4 linked regions of the Homo sapiens genome follow. The protein of the gene in region 4 purifies or fractionates together with the protein of the main gene of each other region. This does not show direct contact. Each region holds a gene or a part of one and is shown on either strand. Other genes may lie near its edges.

Region 1 (3,965 bases), on a different chromosome or scaffold from region 4:
CTAAAGTTAACAAAAAAGCTGCCATCCTCAGAGCTTGCAGTGAGCCGAGATCGCGCCACTGCACTCCAGCCTGGGCGACAGAAGGAGACTCCGTCTCAAAAAAAAAAAAAAAAAAGCTGCCATCCTTTTTTCTTTCACTTTCTAGTTTACTCTCATCAGCAAGCCTTATCAATAATACTACCTTCGAATGATCTTCCAATGCAATCATTTCTGATCATTTCTACTTCTCACACATGCAGGTCCAAGGCATCATTGTCCCTTGCCTAACTACAATAGTGTCCTAATTGCTTATTTTTATTTTTTGAGGAATAACATATATACAGTAAACTATAAAAACGTGAAGCATATAGATATATGAATTACGTATGTATCAAGTGTCAAGATAAAGAAAACTCAGCATTCCTAAAGCTTCCCCATGTCACTTCTCAAACATCCTAAAAAGAAAAAGAAAAAAAAATCCTTTCTTTCTACAGAGGTACGTACTACTCTACCTTTAATCACCATAGACAAGTTTTTACTGCTTTTGAACTTTAGAATTGAATCATACAGTTTGTACTCATTTCTACCTAATTTCAGTCAACATGTTGAGATTGGTCCATACTGTTTCACATAGCAAGTGTGCCTTATTTTCTATTATTATGCAGTATCCGATTGTATGATTATATCACGAATTTTAGCATTTTCGAAATTCAGATCATTTCCAGGCTTTGGCTATTAAGAAGTAGCAACTAACCTTATTACACGTTTTTTTTCTTCCTTGCTTAGTAGAAAAACAGGCTCTTTAACATTTTTAATAAATCTCTCACAAACTGCTGCTCCTAGATTACAAAAAGTCAAAGCCAATTCCTTGAATCTGAACTTCAAGTCACCATAATAGAAACCGGAGCTGCTGTACCTTACATTCTGAAAGGTACCTCAACAAAAGCACATCAAGGACTGTTTAAAACTTCTAGTATTTAAAAAGATCCATCTTTCCTTCCAATGCCTATGGATGATAACAATAAAAGGAGAACCTTAAGAGATCTGCTATTGAGTTTGAGAAGGCCAAATTTAATGATTCCAAACTCCAGCCTTAAATATTTCTGTAGAGACTCTGAGAAATTACCTCTCCCTTGTCTCCACTCCCACTGGCTTCCTCAAGCGCAGATGCCTGGGACCCTGTATGATTAGTCAAACAGTCTTACCAGTACCATCATTATGCTTCTCTAAAGGGCTACTAGTGAAAGAAGCTGCTTTAATTTATTTTAGTTTTTGCCAATCTTCAGTCCTTAGAAAAGTCTTAATTATTTAAAAAAAAAAAGGGTTGGGGAGGTGGTTAACTGTTCTAAGGCATTCAACAAGAGGAAACAGGTACCTTTTATGAAAAGGACTTTCAAGTTAAGTCCACAGTTTAACTGAAATAACTTTACAAGAACGTCTCCACATAAAACTCTTAACACCTTACCCCTGGCAGCCGGATGGATGCGATCTATATACAACACGTCTCTTAAAATGCTCTCACAGAAACGGTAATAAGATACTCTTAACTTCCTTAAGTCAAATCCACATTCGGCCGCGCTGCCACCTGCAGAATTAGCTGAAGGGGAAACAATAAAGGTCCTGCCGGACAGCCATGAGCAGCCCTGGTGCTGCTCCCCGGATGCCCCCGAGCCGAGAAGCGAAGGCCACGCTGGGAATGTCGTCCTCGGAGGCAGAGTACGGGGAAGGGATGGTTCTGAGCAGGTGGGCATCATGGAGGCTCCAGATTCTCGTGTAGCAGTCCTGGCCCACTGCCACCACGATTCCCTCTTCCTCGTGCACATGCAGGGGCAGATAGGCGGACTCATTCACGTGACCTTCGTACTGCCTTACACATTTAGTGGCCCTCAGATCCCACAGCTTGATCTTTCCAGTCATGTCTGATGCCATCAGGCATTGCTCTTCTTGGAGGATTTGCACAGAGGTCACTGCTGAGTCATGGAACAGGCGAGTGGCCCTCCACCCCTTGCCTCGATTTCTACAACGCAGATCAATGGCAAAGATCTCCCCGGAGCGACAGCCATTAAACAGCAAAGGAGCCGTACTAGCAAACTGCTGGGCCAAGACATCACTGCTGGTATCAAATGACTGCTGGTGTCCCGTCGCCACGCTGGTCAACAGGACCTGCTGAGACAAGCCTGCACTAAAGCAGTGATATGCCCGGGTGTTGAGGGACCACGCACAGGACCAGGCCTCTGGGATCTGGAAACTGCAGAGCATGCCAGGCTGGTTAACTCTTGTGTGAACACTTAAGAACCGCGACGCTGGGAGCAGCACTGCACAGCTTGGAGCATCTGTGATTCCCTCGAAGCACAGCAGAACGTGAGAGTCCAACTGGTTCAGCGAGGCCCAGCACAGGGACTTCACCTTCCGGTTGGGGACGTAGAGGTTTCTGAGCACGTACACGTGGAACGAAGGGATCTTCAGAGTTCGCAGGCTGATGATGCCGTACTTGGAGCCTTCGACTTCGACCTGGTTCACTACGAAGAGCTGGTCGCTGTTGGTACTCGCCAGAATGAAGTTAAATCGGTCGCTCGCCAAAGAGGAGGGATCCAAGCTCCGAATTTGGACCTTTTTCCGCTCCATGCAGCTCACACGCAGCTCGTTGGCTAAACGGGAGTAACTGGTGACGTTGAGGAAACCTAGCTGGCTTTTTCGGAGCATGGAAGATGCATTAAATCCCATTCTGGCTACCTTTTTCAGCTTGGCCTCTTCCTCGAGGAGTCGCAGCCTTTCAGCCTCCATTTCCTCCTGCGGAATGTTCCTCGTGACAGGAAATTCTGCAGGATGTTCTTCTCCGTGACAGGATGTTCTTTTCCGTGACAGGAAGTTCCGTCCGGGTGCAAGCGGAAGTGTTGCTACTTTTTATCCTCTCTATTCTAGGAGGAAGTCCATTGTTACAGATGTGTATTACAAATCTCTTTTCCTACTCTGTGGGTTGTCGTATTCTCTCAGTGGTGTCTTGATGAAAGGAAGTTCTTGATGTTAAATTTTTTCCTTTCTCTTTTTGAGACAGGGTCTTGCTCTTTCACCCAGGCTGGAGTCCAGTGGCACGACCACGGCTCACTGCAGCCTGGAACTCCTGGGCTCAAGTGATTCTCCTACCTCTGCCCTACTTAGCTGGGACTATGGGCTCACAACACCATGCCAGGCTACTTTTTTTGTAAAGATGGGGTCTCCCTGCTTTGCCGATGCTAGTCTGGAACTCTTGAGCTCAAGCAGCCTGTCCGCCTCAGCCTCCCAAAGTGCTGGGATTACAAGCATGAGCCCACGCGCCCTGCCTGTATTTCTTATTTTTTTATTTTTTATTTTAAGACGGAGTCTCGCTCTGTCGGCCAGGCTGGAGTACAGTGGCGCGATCTCGGTTCACTGCAAGCTCTGCCTCCCACGTTCACGCCATTCTCCTGCCTCAGCCTCCCAAGTGGCTGGGACTACAGGCGCCCGCCACCACGCCTGGCTAATTTTTTTTGTATTTTTAGTAGAGACAGGGTTTCACCGTGTTAGCCAGATGGTCTCGATCTGCTGACCTCATGATCGGCCCGCCTCAGCCTCCTAAAGTTCCGGGATTACAAGCGTGAGCCACTGCGCCCGGCCGCCTGTATTTTTAAAATACAGTTAGAGACCAGCCTGGGCGGCATGGTGAAACTTTGTCTCTAAAAAAATACAAAGATTAGGCCGGGCGCAGTGGCTCACGCCTGTAATCCCAGCACTTTGGGAGGCGCAGGCAGGCGGATCACGAGGTCAAGAGATTGAGACCATCCCGGCTAACACGGTGAAACCCCGTCTCTACCAACAATTAAAAAAATTAGCCGGGCATCGTGGCGGGCGCCTGTAGACCCAGCTACTCTGGAGGCTGAGGCAAGAGAATGGCGTGAACCCGGGAGGCGGAGCTTGCAGTGAGCCGAGATCGCGCCACTGCATTCTAGCCTGGGCAACAGAGCAAGACT
Region 2 (3,500 bases), on a different chromosome or scaffold from region 4:
GCACAGCCAGGGCTCCCGCATCACGGGGACAAACCCTGTTCTTTGGGGCAGGAGATGAATTTGTTGATTTGTGTGCAGGGATCCCAACACACTATGTATTGTGAGCATCTAAATGTGAGAACCCATAGTGCATCCTAGCGAGATGCTCACGCTGTGAGATGCCCTCAGAACCAAAGCCCACTGAGGAAGTTGCAATTCCCAGCCCCCTCCTCATGTTCTCTCAGAGCGCAAGCAGGGAGACCGGCCGGAATCACCATCCCTGTTGAAGCTGCAGCTTTCTTTCTCTTTTCACCCTTACGCAGAATTGAATGCATGTGCACAGCATGGGCGTGCGAGGCAACGCCATCCAGGCGGCCTTTGTCCAGTCCATGGAAACTGACACAGGCCTTACTGTCAGCCCTCTTTCTAGCTGCCTCTGATGGGTCTTAAAGAGTAAATTGTTCTCTGACCTTTGACCAGATCTGTCAGCCACAGAAAAACAGCCCCTTCCTTCCTGCTACCCCACAGAGATGTGTCCGCCACAGCCTGCGTCTCACAGATAGTCTTAGACACCTGGCCACACCCCAAATTCCCCGACTTCAAAGGATCTTTTCACACCAAAGATGCAATTCCTGGGGCCAAAGCTCAAATCTTAAACCATAGGGTTCCTAGTTTTTCAAAAAGATCTATTGTCAAATTACAGAACACTCCAAAGAGAAGTGACAGATGACTGTACTAAGGCAATGGGTGTTCGCAGACAATATCTTTCAGGCAGGTTTGACCCCCATCTCCTCAGAAGGGTTTAGGTAGCACCTAGCTCCGTTCCAGGCTCAGTGAGGGACACCATTACAAAACAAATGACCAGCCACCCTATCATCATTAATTTGGTGCTATTCTAGGTCAATAGAATTTAATTAGCAATAAATTTGAGTTTCTTCAATGCTTGAGGCCCAAGGATTGAAAAGTAAACTAATGAATGTGGCTATGAACTTTAATCCCAATTTTGCCATTAGATACCTTGCTGACTCCCAAGCAAGACTTTCTATCTTGATTTTTCTTATATATGAAATCAGGAGAAAAGAGATCTGTACAAGTGCATAAAAAACGAGAGAGGAAAAAAAGAACATTGAGATGCTCGCTGGCAAGGTCACTTAATTTTTCTACCCTGCAATGTGCTCTATTATAAACCTAACAGGGAGAAAGTGAGAACACTGCCTTCATTTGCATAACTACAGGGCATCTCAGGGCTCATTTTTCTAATCAGTTTGGCTCCAGGCACCAGGTAAATGGCACAGCCGAGCATGTCGCAGAAATACTAAATAACCACTTACAAGTGGAGACAGAGGAAATAGTGAGAAGGATTCAGATCTCGAGTCAAGTAGGAGCAGCTGGCAACCTGTCCCAGTGACAAAGTGCTGCTTACAGAAGGCGCTCTGCACTAAGCCAGTCCCTATGTACCATGTCACAACTGAGAAACCAGCCCTCTGAGCTCCAGCTAGCATGCTGGCTGGTAAAATATGGAGCCAGACTGTCCTGCTGGTACCTCAGGAGTGGCTGTGAGGCCCATCAAGGTTAAACATGAGCAGAAAATACATCTCAGGACTCCACAATCACTAAGCCAAAGGGAAAAGTCAAGCTGGGAACTGCATCAGGCAAAGCTGCCTCCCATTTTATTTCTAGATAAGATAGCTGCAAAGACAAAACCTACATACCTCCCTCACAATTGGCCCACAAAGAACTTCCGTGTTGGGCCCCCAGACCTGTACCCTAAAACAGTTCTGTTGAATTTCACCCTGGCAATGTAAATTGACATCTGATCTTCTCAGGTGCGGGACAAAGGACAAAACTCAAAGTCATCCCTCTGCTCGCCTGAGACGAATGCATACCTGATTGCTTCACGTGCCTTGTGTTTATGTTATCTTCTATAAAAATGCAGATTCAGTGAGCCAGACTAAGACACAAGTGACTTTTCCTCTACCCTAAACAAACATGTAAATTGTGTATTCGGTTGATCAAAGACTGATCAACCAAAGGCTGATCAAAGACCCAAAAGAATGCAATCGTTTGTCTCTTATCTACCTACACCTTTAAAAAATTTCTTCCTCTTCCCCCAGTATCCACTCCTTCCCCTTTAAATATTAAGGCCCTCAAAATCATCTTTGAGGAAAGGCATAGACCTGCCTCCCAGGTGTGCATCCTTAACGTCGGCAAAATAAACTTTCTAAATTGTTGACACCTGTCTCAGACACTTTTGGTTTACAGTGGGTTTGGGAAACTGGGAGTGTGAAGCCAGGTGAGAAATAATTATCACATCTCTTTGTTAACAGAAGAAAACAAACTCTGTAAAATACTTAAAGAGGTTTATTCTGAGCCAGTGTAAGTGACCATGGGCCAGGGAACAGTCTCATGAGGTCCTGAGAAAGCTCGCCCTAGGTGGTCCAGTTACTGTTTGGTTTTACACATTTCAGAGAGACAGGAGTTACAAGCAAAGACATAACTCAATACACAGAAGGTATACCTTGGTTCAGCCTAAACAGGTGGGATATCTTGAAGGGGCTTGGAGGGTGGGGGTGCTTACAGGTCTTAGGTAGATTCAAAGATATTTTTATTGCCAGTTGATTGAAAGAGTTAAGTTTTGCCTAAAGACTTGAAGTCAGTAGAAAGAAATGCTTAAGACAAAGGACAGTTGTGGAGGCCAAGGTTCTTGTTATGTAGATGAAGCCTCCAGGTAGAAGCCTTTAGAGAAAATAGATGGTAAATATCTCTTTTCAGACCTTAAATTTGCCAGACTCTCATTTAATCTCTCCTAGATCTTGGAAAGGCCTAGAAAGGGAAGGCTTGATTGCATTAATGGAAATGCTCTACAGATGTAAGTATCTCCCACAAGAGATGGTTTTGCAGGGCCATTTCAAAATATGTCAAAGAAATATACTTCAGGGTAAAATATTTTTATTTTCTTCAGGGTTTGCTACCTGTTATGTGACGCTATACCAGAGGCAGGAATTTGCTACCTTACTGCCACAAAGAGTCTGTTTTGTCAGTCTTATATCTCTATTTCAATGTTAATGCCGATCTGCTGTGCCTAAACTCCAACAGCAAGGGGGGGTATAACAAAGCATGTCTGAACTCCATTCCCATCACGGCTGGGAATTCAGTTTTCAGGCTTCTCTGGGGTCCTCTTGATGAAGAGCGGGCTTGTTCAGTCAGTTGGGGGGCTTAGGATTTTACCTTGTGTTTACACATCAATAGGAAACATCAAGCCACTAAAAATATTAGGAACCTTCTACAAGGTCACTAAGCACTCTGCTAGCTCCATACACCACACTGCAGCTCGTCCTTGAGCAGCAGAACTTCATTGTCAGTCATTTTGGTTCTGGAGTCCAGCTGTCCGGCTTCCTCATCCCAGCTCGGCTGTGGATGAGCTTTGTGAGCCGACACAGCTAATTCCCTGGCTGTGCCTCTGTGTCCTCCTCTATAAGCTGTGGGTGATGATGGTGACATCACTTCACAGGTTGTAGTGA
Region 3 (4,081 bases), on a different chromosome or scaffold from region 4:
CTACAGGCACCCGCCACCACACCTGGCTAATTTTTTGTGTTTTTAGTAGAGACAGGGTTTCACCGTGTTAGCCAGGATGGTCTCGAGCTCCTGACTTCGTGATCCGCCTGCCTCGGCCTCCCAGAGTGTTGGGATTACAGGCGTGAGCCACCGCGCCCGGCCTGTAACTGGGTTTTATGCTGACTTGAGGATTTTAGCCAAAAACAAATACCAACAACAACAAAAGAAAACCTTGTTAACTCACTCCTTTGCTCCAATATAATTTTATTCATAAAATAATCACTTATTAGATATTGATTACAGGCAAAATTATACTTTGTTAGACACTTAAAAAATTCCTGGAAGCTGGGTGCAGTGGCACGTGCCTGTAGTTCCGGTTATTCAGGACACTGAGGAGAAAGGATTGCTTGAGCCCAGGAGTTTGAGTCCAGCCTGGGCAATGTAGCAACAACCTATCTCTAAAAAATAAAATAAAAATACCTGGATCTACCTTTTTTCTTTGGTCATAAATAAGTTGACTGTGATGGTCACTTTTATTTCTATTGAGGCTAAGATCCCAGGTCCTGGAGCAGGCCAGCCCCTTCTCTCTGCTGTGTGATTCTGAGTAAATGGGTTCACCTCTCTGAACTCAGTTTCTCCATGTATAAAGTGGAATCAGAATTCCTCCCCTAAGGATGGCTGGATGAGAATTCCATACAATGCTTGTGAAGCTGGCACAATGCCTTGCGTGTAGTAGGTGTTCAAGAAATGGTAGCTATTATTCGTGCGTGTCTTCTACATGAAGAAAGTCAGTCTGTGAGTTCTGTGACGGCATCCTATGGAAACGGTTGGGTGGATTTGCGCCCAAGTTGGAGAGTATGGTTAGCGTGATCTGACTTAAAACTTAGGCCACATGGCACATGGAAACTGGAGAGTGTCTGGGGTCCCTCACTTTAAGAACTAGAATTTTTCCAAAGGTTGCGTGTGACTCAATAGGAAATGGTGACCCCAAGAAACCAAAGAAAGGGAGTTGGTGGTTGTGGGGAGACACGGGAGAGCTGCACACCGTGCCCCTTGCCTGGCGCTGCTGGGCTTCCCACAAAGCCAGTGAGGTTCATCTGTCCCCAGGAAGTCATCAGAGACGGTGGCTGAGGAGACAGGCACTGGGGGCCTCCGTGGACCCGCTATTGGAGTGAAGTGGCCTGGATGGAATTGGGTGGACAGGGTGCTGCCTCAGCAGGCTGGGATGTGCTGGGCTGTCAGAAAGTGCTCATAAATAGCATGCCCCTTGCGAAGACAGGCGAGTCTGCAGACGGCCGTGGCTCCTCTGTTCTTCCCGAGGCTACAGCAACAGGTTCATTCTGGGATGGGTTGGGGGTGGGGAGGCAAAAGCCACCCTGGCAGGCCCGGACCTTTTGTAGTTTCTGTGGGACGCGCATGGCTGACCGCCTGCAAAGAAAAACAGCGCCTCCCTTAAGGGTCAGGTCCCAGTGAGAGGACCCTGACAGCCCAGCTGGGGGTGGAACGAGGGACCCTTGTCTGCAGTGGCCAGGGTCCAAGCCCCTGGACATGTGCTTAGGGCAGGGGACCTTCCAAAACAGCTCCTCTGAGGGAGGGGAGTGGGCACACATGGTACCTGCCAAGTCCCCCGAGAGTCCCCTGTGAGCTGGACCAAGCCCTGTTTCCTGCTGAGGCTAGGAGAGACAGAACCGACAGCCCGCAGGCTGTGCATGGTTAGGCCCACATCCAGAGTATGTGGGCTGTGCAGCTGTGCATGCTGGGGTGGCCGTGCTGGGAGCCGTGGGTGGGTAACAGTTGGATGTGGGGTGTAGATGTAGGTGCCTTGTTTACCACTGTGGATGTCTGAAATGGGCAGGGATGTGTGTGTGTGAGGAGAGAGAGAGAGAGAGAGAAAGAAGCTGTCCTGTGAGCCCATGGGTGAAATATAACTGATAGTGACCATAGAAACTTTTGCGAGTGTGTGCACCTATGTGTGTGTGCTGACAAACAGAACAGTCCTGTGTGTGTCCATGGGTGCAACAATGATGAGAATCCTTCCATGTGACTGCGGCAGGGGCCTGTATTGCGTGTCACTGTCCCTGTAGCAATGAAGAACTGTCGGTGTCTGGGTCTTGAAGTGGCTGGTACACAGTCGTGTTCAATAAATGCTTAAGGAATGAGTAACCGAACGCAGGGAAACTGACCTGGAGCAGGTGTCCAACGACCTGGTCTTACAAGCCTTTTCTCTAGAGGTCTGTCTGTCCACCTCCCGACATATGGGGTCTCCTGTCCCTCCTGGTCACCCAGCCCAGAGCCTGGCACTGTGTAGGTGCTCATGGAATATTTGTTGAATAAAGTAACCAGTGAACAAAAGAGTTCCTGGAGTACGGAGGTGGGAGAGACCCCTGTAGAGGAAACTCCCTGAAGCCCACCCTTTAGCCAGGTTCTGGGGGTGGGACATCTGCAGAGAGCTCTGAGAAACCTGGGTTTCGGGGAGCATCTGGATCAGGGGAAAAGGGCACGGGCTTTGGAGCCAGGCCCGACCCAGGCCACTTCCTCACTGTGTGCTTGAGGAAGTGGCCTCACTTTGCTGAGCCTCAGAGTTCCCCTCTGTACAATGGGGCTCCTGATCCCACTGTCTCAGTCCACGTGGCCCATGGCAGGTGCTCAATGGATGTTTGCTGAATGACTGAATGTCGATCATAAGTTACAGCCACGCCCCATGGGCAGCAAGGCTCTGTAGCTCATCCTGGACTCCAGTCACATCAACACCTGGCTTCTCCCGGGTGGATCCAGTGAACCATTTTCTTTTGGTTTGAAGCCAGAGGTGTTCCTGGGGAGATGGCGGAACAGCACGGAGCACCCGAACAGGCTGCAGCTGGCAAGAGCCATGGAGACCTTGGGGGCAGCTACAAGGTACTGGGCAGGGAGGGGGTCAGAGGGCCCAGGCTACTCCTGGGCCTCAGGGTCATCTTCCCAGCCAAGCAGCACCTCTGCAGGAAGGAAGAGCCATCCTTCCAACCACCCAGGCCAGGACAAAACGCTCCGGGTGGGTCCTCTCACTGCCACCCTCCCGTTAGAAACTTGCTTCATGACTTTGCTGCATCTTCCCTCGTCTGCAAAACAGAAATGGTCACCCACATCCTGCCTGCACCAATGGATCAGAGAGGCCCGGGGGTTTCTGGAAACGGCTCTGAGCTCTGACTCTCCTGTCTGACCTCAGCCTGGTGTCTTGCCCACTCTGGGGAAAAGGGCACAGGGTTTGGAGGCTCTCTGGGCCTCAACAGCCCCATGTTTGAAATGAGGATGGTGCCCAGATATTGTGCCCAGAGTTGGTGTAAAGGCTGAAAGACATGAGTGAAGCCAGCTAGCAGAGGGAGGCACACTAGAAATCTGAGAGAAGGTTTGAATGTGTTGGCTCTGCCCTTTCCAAACCATCTCCGGGGTCTTTTTGGGAAACTATTCCAGACAGAGTCTAAGGATGGGTCGAATCCCAGTGCCTCCTCTTAACTTGCTGTGCAGCCCGAGGCAAGTATCTTACCCTTTCTGAGCTTCTTTGATCCCTTCTGTAAAATGACTAGAACAGATGTTCCCTGGGGATCTTCTACAAAGTCAGTTTGTGTTTCCAGGTGGGTGAGAGAGGCAAAACCTTGGTCTGCCTTTGCAGCCCTTCTCTTCCTAGGCTTGGGGCAGGCAGAGGTCTTCCCCGAGACTGCAAACAGGTGTTTTCATTTTTTTAAGGGGGAAATTTCCTATTAAGGAAAATACAGATTTCTGACCTCTCTTGAAAAAATTGGAACTGGGACCTCATTCCCTCATCGCCAGAAGCAGCTTCATTTCCCCACCGACCTCTCGGGTTATTTCAGTCCGCTGGACTCCCCACCTGGCTCCTGCTGGACATCAGAGTTGCAATCACTAGTTTAATTGGTCTCATTGAAGTTCCTGAAGGCGTTTCCCTCCATGACCATTAGAGGGCAGTGCAGGCCCACCTCAGTGCCAGCTCCAGGCTGGAGAGATGCAGAAAGCAGAGGGTACCTCCCTCTAATGCCCAAAGGAGGGGCAGAGGCTGGAGCTGGGAGCCTAGCAGAGGTGGGATGTTTAG
Region 4 (4,269 bases):
TGCTTATATCAACCACTTTGCAAAATTGCCTTAGGTTGTTCTCCCATTCTTTCAGGTGTCTACTGAGTTCCAGCGAGATTAAATGGAGATATCTTGACCAAGGTATTCAATTCTTCTAGCCTCAGTTTCTTCATCTGTAAAACGGAGGATAATAATAGTACCTCAAAGCATTTTTATGTGAAATGGGATAATTCATTAAAATCTTGATACATACAATGTGCTCAAAGTAGGAAAAGCATTTTATAAGCTTACATCCTAAATTTATGTCTTAGGGTTGCTATGAGGATTAAATGAGAAGATACACATGAAACGAAGTCATAATATATTGTGTAACTACTTATTACCTTTATTTTCACTGTCTCCTCATCTAGGTTAGAAGCCTGGTTCAGCCTTCATTCCTCAAGTTCTTCCGCTGGATGCCCAAAGCCTTCCTTACCTAGCCTTGTTTGACTTTTACAGTCTCCACTCTAACACTCTCTTCTCAGCACTCATCACAGGGTCAGGCGCAGGGTAGGTGCTATGTATTTAGACAGTGGCAGCTCTAGAATTAGCAAGGTCTTTAGCTGAAAGTGAGGTCTTCTGCCTTCTTTTTGATGTTTGCTTGTATAACTTGTCTCAAATATTTTGCCTTAGTCAATTCACTGTGACATTTTGGGGATGCAGTCTAATTACATTAGGCTTAGTTTGCTTTGTGGTAGGACCATTTCCGATGTTGGAATGTACAAGAGGGAGGCAGCCTTAGCCAGTGTCCTACTTTTTCCTTTACTAAAGACATAAATCATCTTTATATAACTTTTGTATTACAGCATGACTAGAAAAGTGCTTGATCTGGATCCTTTCTGATATTTAAGCAATTTCCATCTATCACTAAGATGTGAATTTTTTCCTTAGAATTTAGGAAGCGGTAATAAAACACAGAAACAAACAACCACCACCAAAAGGACAAAGGGTAAAGCTTTCACGTACGGTTTGGAAACACTAGTGTGGTTACAATGAATCAAGACAGTTGTGAAAGTTCCCATCATCTTGTGCATGTTTTCTCCATTTCCGAAATCTGAAGCCGAATACAGGGAAAGCTCCCTATACTTACTGGGCCTTTAACTAAGAAACGAAGACTTGGGGCAAGCATCTGAAGAGTCACACCGACAAATGCTCCTAAAACCCTTGGCATTTACTGAACTCCTGAGATTCTGTGGGATCGCAGGGAAACGGCGGGTGAAGGCCTGGTGCATCCAGGTGAACAGACAGTCTCACGGACTGCGAGGCGCTTGCCAGAGCCCAGCGCCGCAGCTCGGAGCACCCCCGCGGTGCGGGCAGTCCCGGGACGGTGCCGGCTCTTTGGGCTGGAGCTCCGCAGGCTCTTTCCGCCCGTCTGGGCCATGCAGGGCCGGGTAGGGCCGGGCTGAGTCTACTGAGCCGGCCGCGCCGCGGGGGAAGGAGTTTCCGGCGGACTCGGCTAGGTGCCGCTTCCTGTCCCCTTCTCCGCGCTGCCTCACGGTGCCTGCACGGGACGCCGCTCGATCCCCGAGCCCCCTCGCCGTCCCCGACAGCCCCCCCGGCGCCATGCAATCCCGGCTTCTACTCCTCGGGGCACCCGGAGGCCACGGCGGCCCGGCCTCGCGGCGCATGCGGCTGCTCCTGCGGCAGGTGGTGCAGCGCAGGCCGGGTGGCGACAGGCAGCGGCCGGAGGTCAGACTGTTGCACGCCGGCTCGGGGGCCGACACAGGTAACTCGGGGTGCGCCCCTGTCCTCCCTGGTGCCCCTGCGCTCCGTGCCGGGTCCCCGCGCGCCCCCGCCCCTCCTCTCTGTTGCTTCGCTGCGCTTGGAAGGACCGTTTGCCGAGCGGGGAGCTGAAAGATTGAGGTTCTAGTCCCGACCTCGGCGCTAACTGCTGTGTAACGTGGGGGCAAGGCGCTCGCCCTCTCTGTGCCTGATTCTGCAACCCGAGGGGTCTGGACTAAGGTTTCTGATGACCTAGAAGAGTGATTTCTCCTTCCCCTGCCGCTGCCTTTACCCCCAGAATTCTGACTTAGGTTATAATACTCGTAGAGGTTAATGCCTCAGCCCTATGGAATTATTGAAAGCTGGATTTGACCTTGCTCTCTGAGCCTCAAGGGCCTGGAAGCCGGTCTGTGTCATGTTCTAGCCAGGGCTTGTGGCGGCTTAGAAGGGAACATTCTTGCCAAAGAACCCATAGTTCACGGTGTTTTAAATGCATCCCCGAGCCTTTCCAAGTTTTACAGGAGTTTTCCTTAAAGTTTCACGTAATTCTTAGAGCTGACAGTTACACCTTAATTTAGTTAAAACACTTGCCTCTACAAATGAGGTAATTGAAACCCAGAAGGGAAAAGTGATTCGCTGGAGAACACACAACTAATTACTATGCTAGAATCACATGCTTTGATTTCTAAGCTCAGTATTTTTTGGCTCTACTTGAGCTGGTTTTAGGAATTCTTTTTCTTGTGTGTTGGTGGAGTTAGAGTTACTGTGATGGTTAAGGAAAGGATATCTGTTGTTGCTACCCTTGAATGGTGAAGTGATTCCAGACAAGATTTTGTCAATGTCAGTGCTGCTTGGAATAACAGGTTTTCACTATGAAATTGTAGGTTTCGTTGTCCTCTTGCATTTTCCCCGCAACCCCCAGTTTTCCTTGCTAAGAAATGAGCATATGGGCCGGGCGCGGTGGCTCACGCCTGTAATCCCAGCACTTTGGGAGGCTGAGGCGGGCGGATCACGGGGTCAGGAGATCGAGACCATCCTGGCTAACACGGTGAAACCCCCGTGTCTACTAAAAAGAAAATACAGAAAAATTAGCCGGGCGTGGTGGCGGGCGCCAGTAATCCCAGCTACTCCGGAGGCTGAGGCAGAAGAATGGCGTGAACCCGGGAGGCGGAGCTTGGAGTGACCGGAGCCACTGCACTCCGGCCTGGGCGACAGAGCAAGACTCCATCTCAAAAAAAAAAAAAAAAAAAGCATATTTAGGTCCCACGTATTTCGTTTTATTCATTGAAGACATACACCACCCCCGTCCCCCACCATAGTGTTGCAATTTCAAATTTTACTTTTTGTTTTTTTTTTTTTTTTTGCTTTTTCTCAATTACTCTCACTTCTGGGCTGTTTATTCATTTGTTTTTTACATTTTTTGTGTGTTCTTTATTTGTTTTTTGCTCCTTTGCCCTAGAAGGCAGAGGTCAAAGGTGGAAGTATAGCATAAACTATAGGTTGGGTTTTGGAGTTAAACAATTTGGGTTGGAATCCACTTATCCACTATCTAACCATGGGTCGTTGAGGGTAGGTTACTTAACTTTGTGTCCTAGTTTTCTTAACTGTAAAAGGATAAGAAGAATATATCTATTATGGTTGTTGTGAGGATTTATTAATTAATATAATCTGTGGCACATATTAATGCTCAATAAAAGTTAGCTTTTTTATTCTTAGTATGTACAGTTTTAGCTATTTGAGAATTATTCTGTTTCCTTGCCTTTAGAAGACATGAAACCAAGTTTGTTTAGATTCAGGACTGTTCAGACTATCTGGGTAGGCAGATTTAGCCGAGTGAATTGACTTGAACTTTTTAAAAAACAATTGTTCTTTGTACATGGATAATACATGTTGATTGTAAAAACACATGTGGGTGTGAGTTTTTAAAGTCTGTATTATATACGTATTGGTAGATAAGTTGTAAATGTCCTCAAATTTTGTTATAGCCAGTAAATCAAAGTATAGGCTTTGCTTCAAATGTGAGAGTCATGGACATATTACAGAGAACATACTATCTTCTTTAAATCAGTCATTTACTCTGGCAGGATCAGACCAAAAAGAGGTATTTTTTGAGGGTGTGAGAACTGTAACTGAATGCAGCTGGGAACCCACCAGAGATCTGGACTTGAGTAAGAGCAGTTGTGAGCCAGGTAAATGGACAGCACACTTTTGGCTACTCTGAGGCCTGAGAGTAAGGCTATCAAGATGGAAGTGTCCCATTTTGAATCAGAGATCATACATGGACAAGTGTAAAACTACAAATAGCAATAGGCCATAATGGATTACATCTTATGTTGGGATGATGCTCTCAGCTGCATTCATACATGTGACCAGTAACTGATTATCTCCTCTCTCTGTAATTGACATTGCTTCCTAATAGTTTGAAAAAAGAACAACAAAGTTCATAAATAATATATTTAAGTTATATACTGCTGTTATTTCTCCTGGAGTATTTGTTTTGTTTATCTATATATTCGTTTGGTGCCTGCCAACACTTTGTACCTAGTA

The links.
Region 1: the proteins of VWA8 (region 4) and DCAF4L1 purify together in Homo sapiens (co-immunoprecipitation; one large-scale study listed by IntAct). This does not show direct contact.
Region 2: the proteins of VWA8 (region 4) and FAM167A purify together in Homo sapiens (co-immunoprecipitation; one large-scale study listed by IntAct). This does not show direct contact.
Region 3: the proteins of VWA8 (region 4) and CRYBB3 purify together in Homo sapiens (co-immunoprecipitation; one large-scale study listed by IntAct). This does not show direct contact.

What each region holds. Positions count from the first base shown.
Region 1 is NC_000004.12:41,980,591-41,984,555, reverse strand, and holds the start of DCAF4L1 (DDB1- and CUL4-associated factor 4-like protein 1), read right to left. Parts: upstream 2,801-3,965; 5' UTR 2,764-2,800; coding exon 1,573-2,763; 3' UTR 1-1,572.
Region 2 is NC_000008.11:11,425,254-11,428,753, reverse strand, and holds part of FAM167A (protein FAM167A), read left to right. Parts: intron 1-3,500.
Region 3 is NC_000022.11:25,198,577-25,202,657, forward strand, and holds the start of CRYBB3 (beta-crystallin B3), read left to right. Parts: upstream 1-1,281; 5' UTR 1,282-1,333; exon of another isoform or gene 1,334-2,800; 5' UTR 2,801-2,820; coding exon 2,821-2,895; intron 2,896-4,081. UniProt on the Homo sapiens protein: Crystallins are the dominant structural components of the vertebrate eye lens.
Region 4 is NC_000013.11:41,958,310-41,962,578, reverse strand, and holds the start of VWA8 (von Willebrand factor A domain-containing protein 8 isoform a precursor), read left to right. Parts: upstream 1-1,469; 5' UTR 1,470-1,563; coding exon 1,564-1,726; intron 1,727-4,269. UniProt on the Homo sapiens protein: Exhibits ATPase activity in vitro.